Homo sapiens: one gene and its partner. The protein of the gene in region 1 interacts with the protein of each later gene in a biochemical or structural test. Each region holds a gene or a part of one and is shown on either strand. Other genes may lie near its edges.

Region 1 (5,337 bases):
CAGCAAAGTAGCAGATGCAAAGCAGACAGGAATGCAACTTCTTGGCAAGGACATCACCTTGCTTCACCTGCTAGGACTGCACTCAGAAAACAGGTAGGAATTGAAGTCCGACAGCAAAGCAGAAGGTGGTGGTTCTGAGTCAGTGCTGGGTGCGGGGGAAAGCACTCACGCGGGCCTTCATGAGTGCCAGGGCCCTCTCTGAGAACCCGATCAGCCTCATGCAGTGATGGATCCTGCCGGGGCCCAGTCTGCCCTGGGCGATCTCAAAGCCTCGGCCAGGGCCCAGGACCATGTTCTCTTTGGGCACACGCACGTGCTCAAATCGGACTTCACCATGGCCACCTGAAAGACCCAAACGATCACTGTGAGCAATAGCCATAGTCATTTTCCTTGGATGTGTTTATTCCTCACCTCAGTCTGGGTTATCTGCTGGCAATGTCCCTGCCCTTTATTTAGCCTTCTTACTGGGACATGGTTAAAGGGAAAAGGACGGCAGGAAACAGCCTGTTAAACACAGAAAATGAATCACTGATTTATAATGGCAAATGACTATTCTGTGATTCCTTTTATAAAAACATAATAATGCCACCTTAAGCTGAAGCTCCTAGTGGTTTGTGACAATGTAGTGATCCTATGAAAACACTGAAAGTAAAAATGTGAACACTATTAGCAGAGAACCAAACTGGGAGCGGACCAAACCAGGGCTGTGGCCTAGAGGTCAGCTGTTCACACTGGGGCCTGGAAGAGTAGGTTTGGGGTCCACTTCCTGCGTCTGCCCTGTATGGCTTCCTGTGTCACAGACTCCTGATTACTTTCTAAGTTTAGAAGAGGGAAAAAAATCCATAAATGCCTGTCTGAAATCCGCCTGCATGGTTGATATTCATGTATGGAAATGAAATGCAGGAGCATGTGACTCCAAATGTCATCATACCCTCAGACGTGGGATGTGGCAAGTCCTGAACAAGAGCAGGGGCCCCTCAGTGGTGTTTCCTGGGGACCAGACCCACACCCAGGGGTGACCCGCCCCTGGAGGTCTCACCTGGTGCATCTTCCAGTCCATACACCGTCAGAGGCCGGATGATTTTTATCCCTGGGGTATCCATGGGAACCAAGAGCACAGACTGCTGCCGGTGTCTTGGTGCATGTGGGTCTGTTTTTCCCATAAACACACAGAGTTGGCAACGAGGATCCAGGATGCCTGCCAGGAAAGGAGAGAGACAGACCCCATCATCTGACACCAGGGCCATCAAATCTCTACACACGTGGTCCTGGCCCAAGAAAGGCACAGTAAGGAAGCAGACAGAGCTCTTTAAGGCTCCATGTAATCAGATGAGCATCTGCAGACTGCTGACCAGAAATAAGAGCAAATTGGGTTTTGTCCCAGTGAGGAATGAATCCAACATCATAAGAGCAAGTTTTTAAAAGCATCACATAGAGTAGAAAATATAATTTAGAGACAAGAGGATGAAAACCGCTACTTGATCCCTGCCAGCTGGCTCGGCTCCCACAGGTGGTGCACACATAACGGCTCTGGGCCCGGGCCTTGGAATCAGGTGAACCTTTGACTCTGGGTTCTCTACTTGCTGGCTGGGGGCTCATACCCCAGGCAAGGGACCTAAGTCTGAGTGCGGTTTCCTCCTTTGCAAAATGGGGATGCTCATTCTTAATGTCCAGGGAGGTATGGGCTCCGGGAGGTAAGCTCCACGGCTACTTGTAGGGGCCCTGCAAAAGTAACACTGGACAATCCCTAAAAGTCAGGATTGTCATTAGCCCTTAGGATGTAACACACCTGATCGAGGAGCCAGGAAGCCACCAAGGAAGGGGAGCTGCCCAAAGCAGAATGAACAGCAGGAAGTGGAGAGATTCCTGGGGTCACATGTGCAGGGAGGCATCCGTCCATGTGTGGGCACCGGGGGACGTCCCTGCCCTGTGAAGTGCCACCTCTGAGAACAGTGTGCTCCACGGATTACCCTCCTATTCTCCCAGCTGCCTCTGCTGGGGGCGCTAAGTGACAGAATCTCCTTTGTGTCAACTTGAAAAAGCAGAGGCTCCTCCCAGGCATTGAGAGACGCGCCTAACAGCACAGACTCCCTGATGTGCATTTGGAAAGTGCATTTTAGGCCAAATACCTGTGATCCACCATTTGTGACCGTTTATGACATAGAAGCTGTCCTCCTCTCTGATGGAAGCCTCAATGTTGGTGGCATCTGAAGAGGCAACCTGAGTGGGGAGCATATTCCAGTCAGAGACGCCAGCAGACAGCCCGTGTTCCCTGTGGGGCCGACAACAACAGGGCCAGGCAAGTGGGTGGCAGCCCAGGCGACGTACCTGGGGCTCGGTCATAGCAAAACAGGAGCGGGCTTTCCCCTCCAGCAGAGGAATCAGCCAGCGAGCCTTCTGCGCTTCGGTGCCATACCTCACCAGCAGCTCCATGTTGCCCGTGTCAGGCGCAGAGCAGTTACATACCTGAGAAGGAAAAGGAGCGTGACCATGACTGTCATGTCCTCTTCTAAAAAAAACAGAGTCAAGCTCTGTCACCCAGGCTGGAGTATCGTGGCACGATCATGGCTCACTGCAGCCTCGACTTCCTCAGCTCAAGCCATCCTCCCATGCCTCAGCTTCCCAAGCAGCTGAGACTACAGGTATGCACCATCACACCCGATTAATTTTTTATTTTTTTGTACATACAGAGTTCTATGTTGCACACGCTGGTGTCGAACTCCTGGCCTCAAGTGATCCCCCACACTTCGGCCTCCAAAAGTACCGGGATTACAGGTGTGAGCCACCATGCCTGGCCTTCTCACATTAATATTTCAAGCTTCAAATTGGATGGGCATGGTGGCTCACGCCTGTAATCCCAGCACTTTGTGGGGCCAGGGTAGGTGGATCACCTGAGGTCAGGAGTTTGAGACCAGTCTGGCCAACATGGTAAAACCCTGTATCTACTAAAAATACAAAAATTAGCCAGGTGTGGTGGCACATGCCTGTAGTCCCAGCTACTTGGGAAGCTGAGGCAGGAGAACCACTTGAACCCAGGAGGCAGGGGTTGCAGTGCGCCAAGATTTCGCCACTACACTCCAGCCTGGGTGACAGAGCGAGACTCCATCTCAAAAAAAAAAAAAAGTTCAAGTTCATGCCAGTGCTTCTGAATCTGGTTTATCTGTTTAGGATTGAGTTCTTATGAAGATCAGGATGTTCCCACACACTGAGGAAAACTTTAAAGAAGGTACCTCGGGGGCATACAGGGACGTGCCCATGAGCTCACACAGATGTGCATATTCCACATTGGTCAGTCCTGCTCCGTATTTTTTCTCGGGATCAGCCTCTAAGGGTAGGAAAAGGTTCCAAAGTCCTTCAGCTTTGGCTTTCTCCTATCATGGGGAAAATAAGTCAGGAAACCACAGTGGAAGATTTCATTTTATTTTGAACCGTGGAAAACAATGAAAGGGATTGGAGGAAACAAGGCAGACAACCAAACATGCACGTGTGCCCAAAAAAATGATATGAGGAGCTGGGCATGGTGGCTGTGCCTGTGGTCCCAGCTACACAGGAGGCTGAAGTGGGAGGATCACATGAGCCCAGGAGGTTGAGACTGCAGTGAGCTATGACCACACCACTGCATTCCACCCTGGGTGACAAAGCGAGACCCTGTCTCAAAAAAAAAAAAAAAAAAAAAAAAGAGAGAGATGGTGGCTCACGCCTGTAATCCCAGCACTTTGGGAGGCCGAGGCGGGCGGATCACAAAGTCAGGAGTTCAAGACCAGCCTGAACAACATGGTGAAACTCCATCTCCATTAAAAATACAAAAATTAGCTGGGCATGGTGGCACGTGCCTATAATCCCAGTTACTCGGGAGGCTGAGGCAGGAGAATCGCTTGAACCTGGGAGGCGGAAGTTGCACAGAGCAAGACTCCGTCTCAAAAAAAAAGAGAAAAAAAGAAAAGTAGATGATGATTGCATTATGCTCCTGAAGATCTCAAGTAATTTCAAAACTAACACAATCCAAGGTTCACGTGATAAGGAACAGCGGGTGTTTCTGTTTATCAGCTGAAGTGACAGCACTGGGAGACAACACAGAAACTCAGCTCACAGTGGATCTGGCCCTCTAGCTGTGATATTACGGGTTCTCTAGAGAGAGATTTATTAGCTGATACAGCACTGTTTCAAATTTACATAATTCAAATACCCATCAGATAGGCCTAACCTGCCCTGGCTTTCTAAGGCCAAGCATTCCACTGCCTGGGCTGTGCAGTCACACCTGAGCCATCTGCCTGTGACACAGGCACAGCAAGAGCAAGAGATGGAAACTGAGTCATGAAGAGCTGGCTCTTTCTGAGACGATGGAAGCAAAGATCATTCAACTCGGAGCTCCTGTATCTTCACTGCCTGGGATGGTTCAGGTGAGCCCGGTGGGGTCGGGGAGGGTATGCCATGGTATTGGGGTCTTACCACCTCACCATGGCTGCTTTACCTTGAGGTCTTCGATCAGTGGGGAGGGGCTCCACCTGGCTGCTGAGGCCTGGTGACTCTGCAGCTCTGGCTCTGCAGGGTACACACGTTGCTCCATGAAGTGCTTCAGCCGGTGATACAGCTCTCTGACAGGTGGAGAGAGGCTCTCTGGAGAGATAACCAGACCTCCCCTTGAGGTATGAGCTGGGGAAGCTTCTGGAACGGAGCTATAACTCCTGCTGCCTGTGGGGCACCACTGGGACTGGGGCCTGGCCCACGTGTGGTAGGACCTTGTTAACGGATTTGTGAAGGGCATCTCTTTGAAAACCCGGAACCCTTCTTTGACTGCGAAATCCCACGCCAGGTTAGACACAAATTCGGTCAGCTTTCCAGTTTGTTCCGCATATGTGGAGCTTGCTTGCCCTAAGCAGAATCAAAGAAAAACAGTGATTACTCCCACACGACCCATCATAGGGATGTTAACATGTGATGACACTGTCACTTCAGCAGCTATTGCCATTTGCTGAGCACTTGCTAAGTACCAAACACTGTGCTAAGAGCCACTATAGCTCACTGAATCCCCAAAGCAATACAACTGCTTTCACCTGCACTTTGCACGCAAGAAAACTGAGTCTTAGAGAAGGAGGTGACTTGGACGAGCTGGAAGTTAGGGGGCTGGGGGCCAGAGTCCAACTTAGGTCTGCCTGCTCCCTGCTCTTGATCTCTGCTTTCCTAAAAGACTACATTTAATCAGTAACACCCCAGATCACCTCTGCCGTTGCCAGTGGGCTATAAGAAGTCCTGCATCCTAGACCACCCTTGCTACAAAATTGATAACAGCAATGCCACAACTGACTAAAGGAAGAGCCAACTTCTAGACACCACTGT
Region 2 (5,117 bases), about 100 Mb from region 1:
AGGAGCGTCTCTGCCCGACCACCCATCGTCTGAGATGTGAGGAGCGCCTCTGCCCCGCCGCCCCGTCTGGGATGTGAGGAGCGCCTCTGCCTGGCCGCGACCCCGTCTGGGAGGTGAGGAGCGTCTCTGCCCGGCCGCCCCGTCTGAGAAGTGAGGAGACCCTCTGCCCGGCAGCCGCCCCGTCTGGGAAGTGAGGAGCGTCTCCGCCCGGCAGCCACCCCGTCCGGGAGGGAGGTGGGGGTCAGCCCCCCGCCCGGCCAGCCGCCCCGTCCGGGAGGGAGGTGCGGGTCAGCCCCCCGCCTGGCCAGCCGCCCCGTCCGGGAGGGAGGCGGGGGGTCAGCCCCCCGCCCGGCCAGCCGCCCCGTCCAGGAGGGAGGTGGGGGTCAGCCCCCCGCCCGGCCAGCCGCCCCGTCCGGGAGGGAGGTGGGGGTCAGCCCCCTGCCCGGCCAGCCGCCCCGTCCGGGAGGGAGGTGGGGGTCAGCCCCCCGCCCGGCCAGCCGCCCCGTCCAGAAGGTGAGGGGCGCCTCTGCCCGGCCGCCCCTACTGGGAAGTGAGGAGCCCCTCTGCCTGGCCACCACCCCGTCTGGGAGGTGTACCCAATAGCTCATTGAGAACGGGCCATGATGACAATGGCGGTTTTGTGGAATAGAAAAGGGGGAAAGGTGGGGAAAAGATTGAGAAATCCGATGGTTGCTGTGTCTGTGTAGAAAGAAGTAGACATGGGAGACTTTTCATTTTGTTCTGTACTAAGAAAAATTCTTCTGCCTTGGGATCCTGTTGATCTATGACCTTACCCCCAACCCTGTGCTCTCTGAAACATGTGCTGTGTTCACTCAGGGTTAAATGGATTAAGGGCGGTGCAAGATGTGCTTTGTTAAACAGATGCTTGAAGGCAGCATGCTCTTTAAGAGTCATCACCACTCCCTAATCTCAAGTACCCAGGGACACAAACACTGCGGAAGGCCGCAGGGTCCTCTGCCTAGGAAAACCAGAGACCTTTGTTCACTTGCTTATGTGCTGACCTTCCCTCCACTATTGTCCTATGACCCTGCCAAATCCCCCTCTGCAAGAAACACCCAAGAATGATAAAAAAAAAAAAAAAAAAGAATAAAGTAAGTTGGTTCGAGAACGTGGATGGAGGAGGCTGGGAAAACTGTCCATACTCCTTTCACGGGATTCGGAAAGAGGTATCTGAACTCACCAGCGATCGGTGGCTGTTCCCTCAGGTTCTCCCAGCCACAGCTTCTCCTCTGATTGCTCCAAATATTCCTCAGCCCAGCGGGCAGGGGACACAGACAAGGGGTCTGCAAGGAGCAGAGAAGTGGGGAAATCACACAGGTTCATTCAGTGTGGGATCAAGGAAAGGGAAAGAGATGCCCATATTCAACTGACCCTCTTAGCCACACCAAAGCAGACAAAACTCTGCTGACTCCCTCAGAAACCCCTGGTCAAAAGAATATAGTACTAAATTTTCAACATCCTCAATATCCAACCCATTCTCAAGGAGCCTGGGGCAGAAATTTACTGAGAGTTGGGAACGGGAGATCAAATAAGGAATCTCAGGAAAGGATTAAGAACCAAACTCTTTTTCTTGAAGTGCAAGATATTTCAATAAGAAATAGGAAGCGGAAGGGCTTTCACTTTCCTCAGAAGTACAGCAGGGAGCCAGTAAGGAGTGAAGGGAGCACAGAAGGGCTCCTGTTCCTTAACCAAGGCACTGGTCTGTTCTCCCTCTACCCAGAGTTCACACAATCCCGGCCAAAGGAGCCTTATTTCATTGTAATTTGCCTACCAAGAGAATCAGAGAAGTGGAATGCTAGGCTAGAATTAAAGACACATAGGTCTGCTCTTCCCTATGGATGTTTGGTGGGTTTTTTCATTTTTTAATTGAAATGTAATATACAAATATGAAACCATATAATGTCTACCAAACTTAAGTGTACAGCTAAATTAACTTCCACATTTGATACACTCACATAACCACCACCCGGATCAAGATACAGAACGTTTACAGTTCCCTCACAGGCTCCCTCAGTCTCCCAGCCCCCAGAAGTAAACACTATTCTGACTTTTCTCACTTTTGATTATCTTTGAGTAGCTATGTTTTTTCAGTCTAATTTTAGAAACTGTCTCAGAAGCTCTAGTGACAAAGGGGACTGCTGCAACATCAGAATTAACCTATCAAGGCAACAAACTCAATGAGGGTGCTGAACTGTTTTTCATCCTCCAGGACTTTGCCCTTTACTATCCTGTGGCCAGAAAAAAAAAACAAGGAGACTGACTGCGGGCACTAAAGAACACAAGGAAACAAAGAGAAGGCACAAGCCTACGGTGTTCTTTCCTTCTGCCCTGTGTCCAGAACTAATCTTACTAGTTAGTCTGCCACCACCTTCCCCTGCTATTCCCCACTCCTGGCCCATGACAAGGACAGTTCCCAAGGGGGAACTCCACTCTCTTGTTGAGAACCTACTAACTCCAATTTGCATTAAAGAGGGACATTTGGGCAGGGGTGTGAAAATATTAGCTGATACTAGCAGTCTTTGTCCCCAGTTTCAAGATCTGACCACCCTTGCTTTTACTACCCCTTCGGTATTAAAGTACAAAAACTTCTACTCCATTTTAACTGAAACTTTGCCTGAATAATGTCAACAAAGTAGTCTCAAAATCTGAGCATGAAATGTCAAAATGTGAAAAACAAAGATCAAGACTCTCAGAATACACCTAATTATAAATAATAAGTAATTACTACTTATTATATTATATATAACATATATAATTACATTATATATAACATATAATTATTACATTATATATAACATATATAATTATTATATTATATATAACATATATAATTATTACATTATATATAACATAATTACATTGTATATGACATATAATTACATTGTATATGACATATATATAATTATTACATTGTATATGACATATATAATTATTACATTGTATATGACATATATAATTATTACATTGTATATGACATATGATTACATTATATATGACATATATAATTATTACATTATATATGACATATATAATTATTACATATGACATATAATTATTACATATGACATATATAATTACATTATATATGACATATATAATTACATTATATATGACATATATAATTACATTATATATGACATATATAATTATTACATTATATATGACATATATTATTACATTATATGACATATATAATTACATTATATGTGACATATATAATTACATTATATGTGACATATATAATTACATTATATGTGACATATATAATTACATTATATGTGACATATATAATTATTACATTATATGTGACATATATAATTATTACATTATATGTGACATATAATTATTACATTATATGTGACATATAATTATTACATTATATGTGACATATATAATTATTACATTATATGTGACATATATAATTATTACATTATATGTGACATATATAATTATTACATTATATGTGACATATATAATTATTACATTATGTGACATATATAATTATTACATTATATGTGACATATATAATTATTACATTATATGTGACATATATAATTATTACATTATATGTGACATATATAATTATTACATTATATGTGACATATATAATTATTACATTATATGTGACATATATAATTATTACATTATATGTGACATATATAATTATTACATTATATGTGACATATATAATTATTACATTATGTGACATATATAATTATTACATTATATGTGACATATATAATTATTACATTATATGTGACATATATAATTATTACATTATATGTGACATATATAATTATTACATTATATATGATGTAATTATTACATTATATATGACACATAATTATTACATTATATATGGCACATATAATTATTACATTATATATGACACATATATGTATGACACATAATTATTACATTATATATGTCATATATAATTAAATTATATATGACATATATAAATTATGACATATATAATTAAATTATATATGACATATAATTAAATTATATATGACATATATAAATTATGACATATATAATTAAATATGACATATAATTAAATTATATATGACATATATAATTATTACATAACATATATTACATTATATATAATATATAATGTAATAAATACATTATATGTAACATATGTAATAAGAAATACATTATATATAACATAATGTAATAAGAAATACGTTATAACATAAGAAATACATTATATATACATTATATATAATGTAAAATGTATATATAATATATATAATATATAATGTATAATGTAATAAGAAATATGGTTGGCAATTTTTTTTGACCATAGATCCATCTGTTAATTTCAAGGACTCTCAAAAATTAAATACAGATTCTGCTCACTAGCTCTTACAGGAAGCATTTCTCTTCCATTTGCCCCAATTAGACTGTTGCCTCAAGTGTGGAGACGGAAAGGAGATGCTTAATACTCAAAGAGACTTTAAGATCTCCTAGTTCCTTAGTTCCATTCTTAGTTGAAATTCTTAGCTCCATTCTGTTGAAAAATAACTACTACCTCCTCAACTCTCCAAACACTTCTAACTCTCAACTAGAGTATTTTGCAAAAGCATATTCTGGCCATAAGTGCTCCTCAAATTCACAGAAAACATTTCAAATTCCTATGAAATGGTCCTCTCAAGGACAAAAAAAAAAAAACAGAAAAAACACAAAGCACCTTTGAATTTTTACAACAGACATGAGGACTTAACAATAGATATGAGGCAGTTTAAGAAAAAAAATCCCAGAGCTGAGAAAAACTATCCTCAAATACCTATAATTTGGTAGTTGGCCAGATTAAATCGCCACAAGACCCAGAATTTCTTGGCATTGGGAACCTACTCCAACAAGAGTCAAATAACCGAAAGAATCAAAAGAGTAACACACTGCCTTCACAATCTTTGAGAAATTCCTACAGAAAATCAGATCCATGTGGATACATCTGAGATCAAGGCAACTAAGGTCTACAGAGGGGATGCACTGCCTGAGGTCATACAGATTAGTAGAGTGAGAATAACCTAGACACCAAATACCCCACTCAAAATGTGCACCTCATATAATTTCTCGTTGTTTAC

What was found. Proteins that work in one complex are often made in the same cells at the same time.
Region 2: the proteins of ACAD10 (region 1) and PEX5 interact in a test that uses a peptide from one of them, tested with the Homo sapiens proteins (one study listed by BioGRID).

The regions. Positions count from the first base shown.
Region 1 is NC_000012.12:111,744,178-111,749,514, reverse strand, and holds part of ACAD10 (acyl-CoA dehydrogenase family member 10), read right to left. Parts: intron 4,873-5,337; coding exon 4,472-4,872; intron 3,372-4,471; coding exon 3,231-3,371; intron 2,467-3,230; coding exon 2,329-2,466; intron 2,221-2,328; coding exon 2,130-2,220; intron 1,199-2,129; coding exon 1,040-1,198; intron 343-1,039; coding exon 170-342; intron 1-169.
Region 2 is NC_000012.12:7,195,198-7,200,314, reverse strand, and holds part of PEX5 (peroxisomal biogenesis factor 5), read right to left. Parts: intron 1,305-5,117; coding exon 1,202-1,304; intron 1-1,201.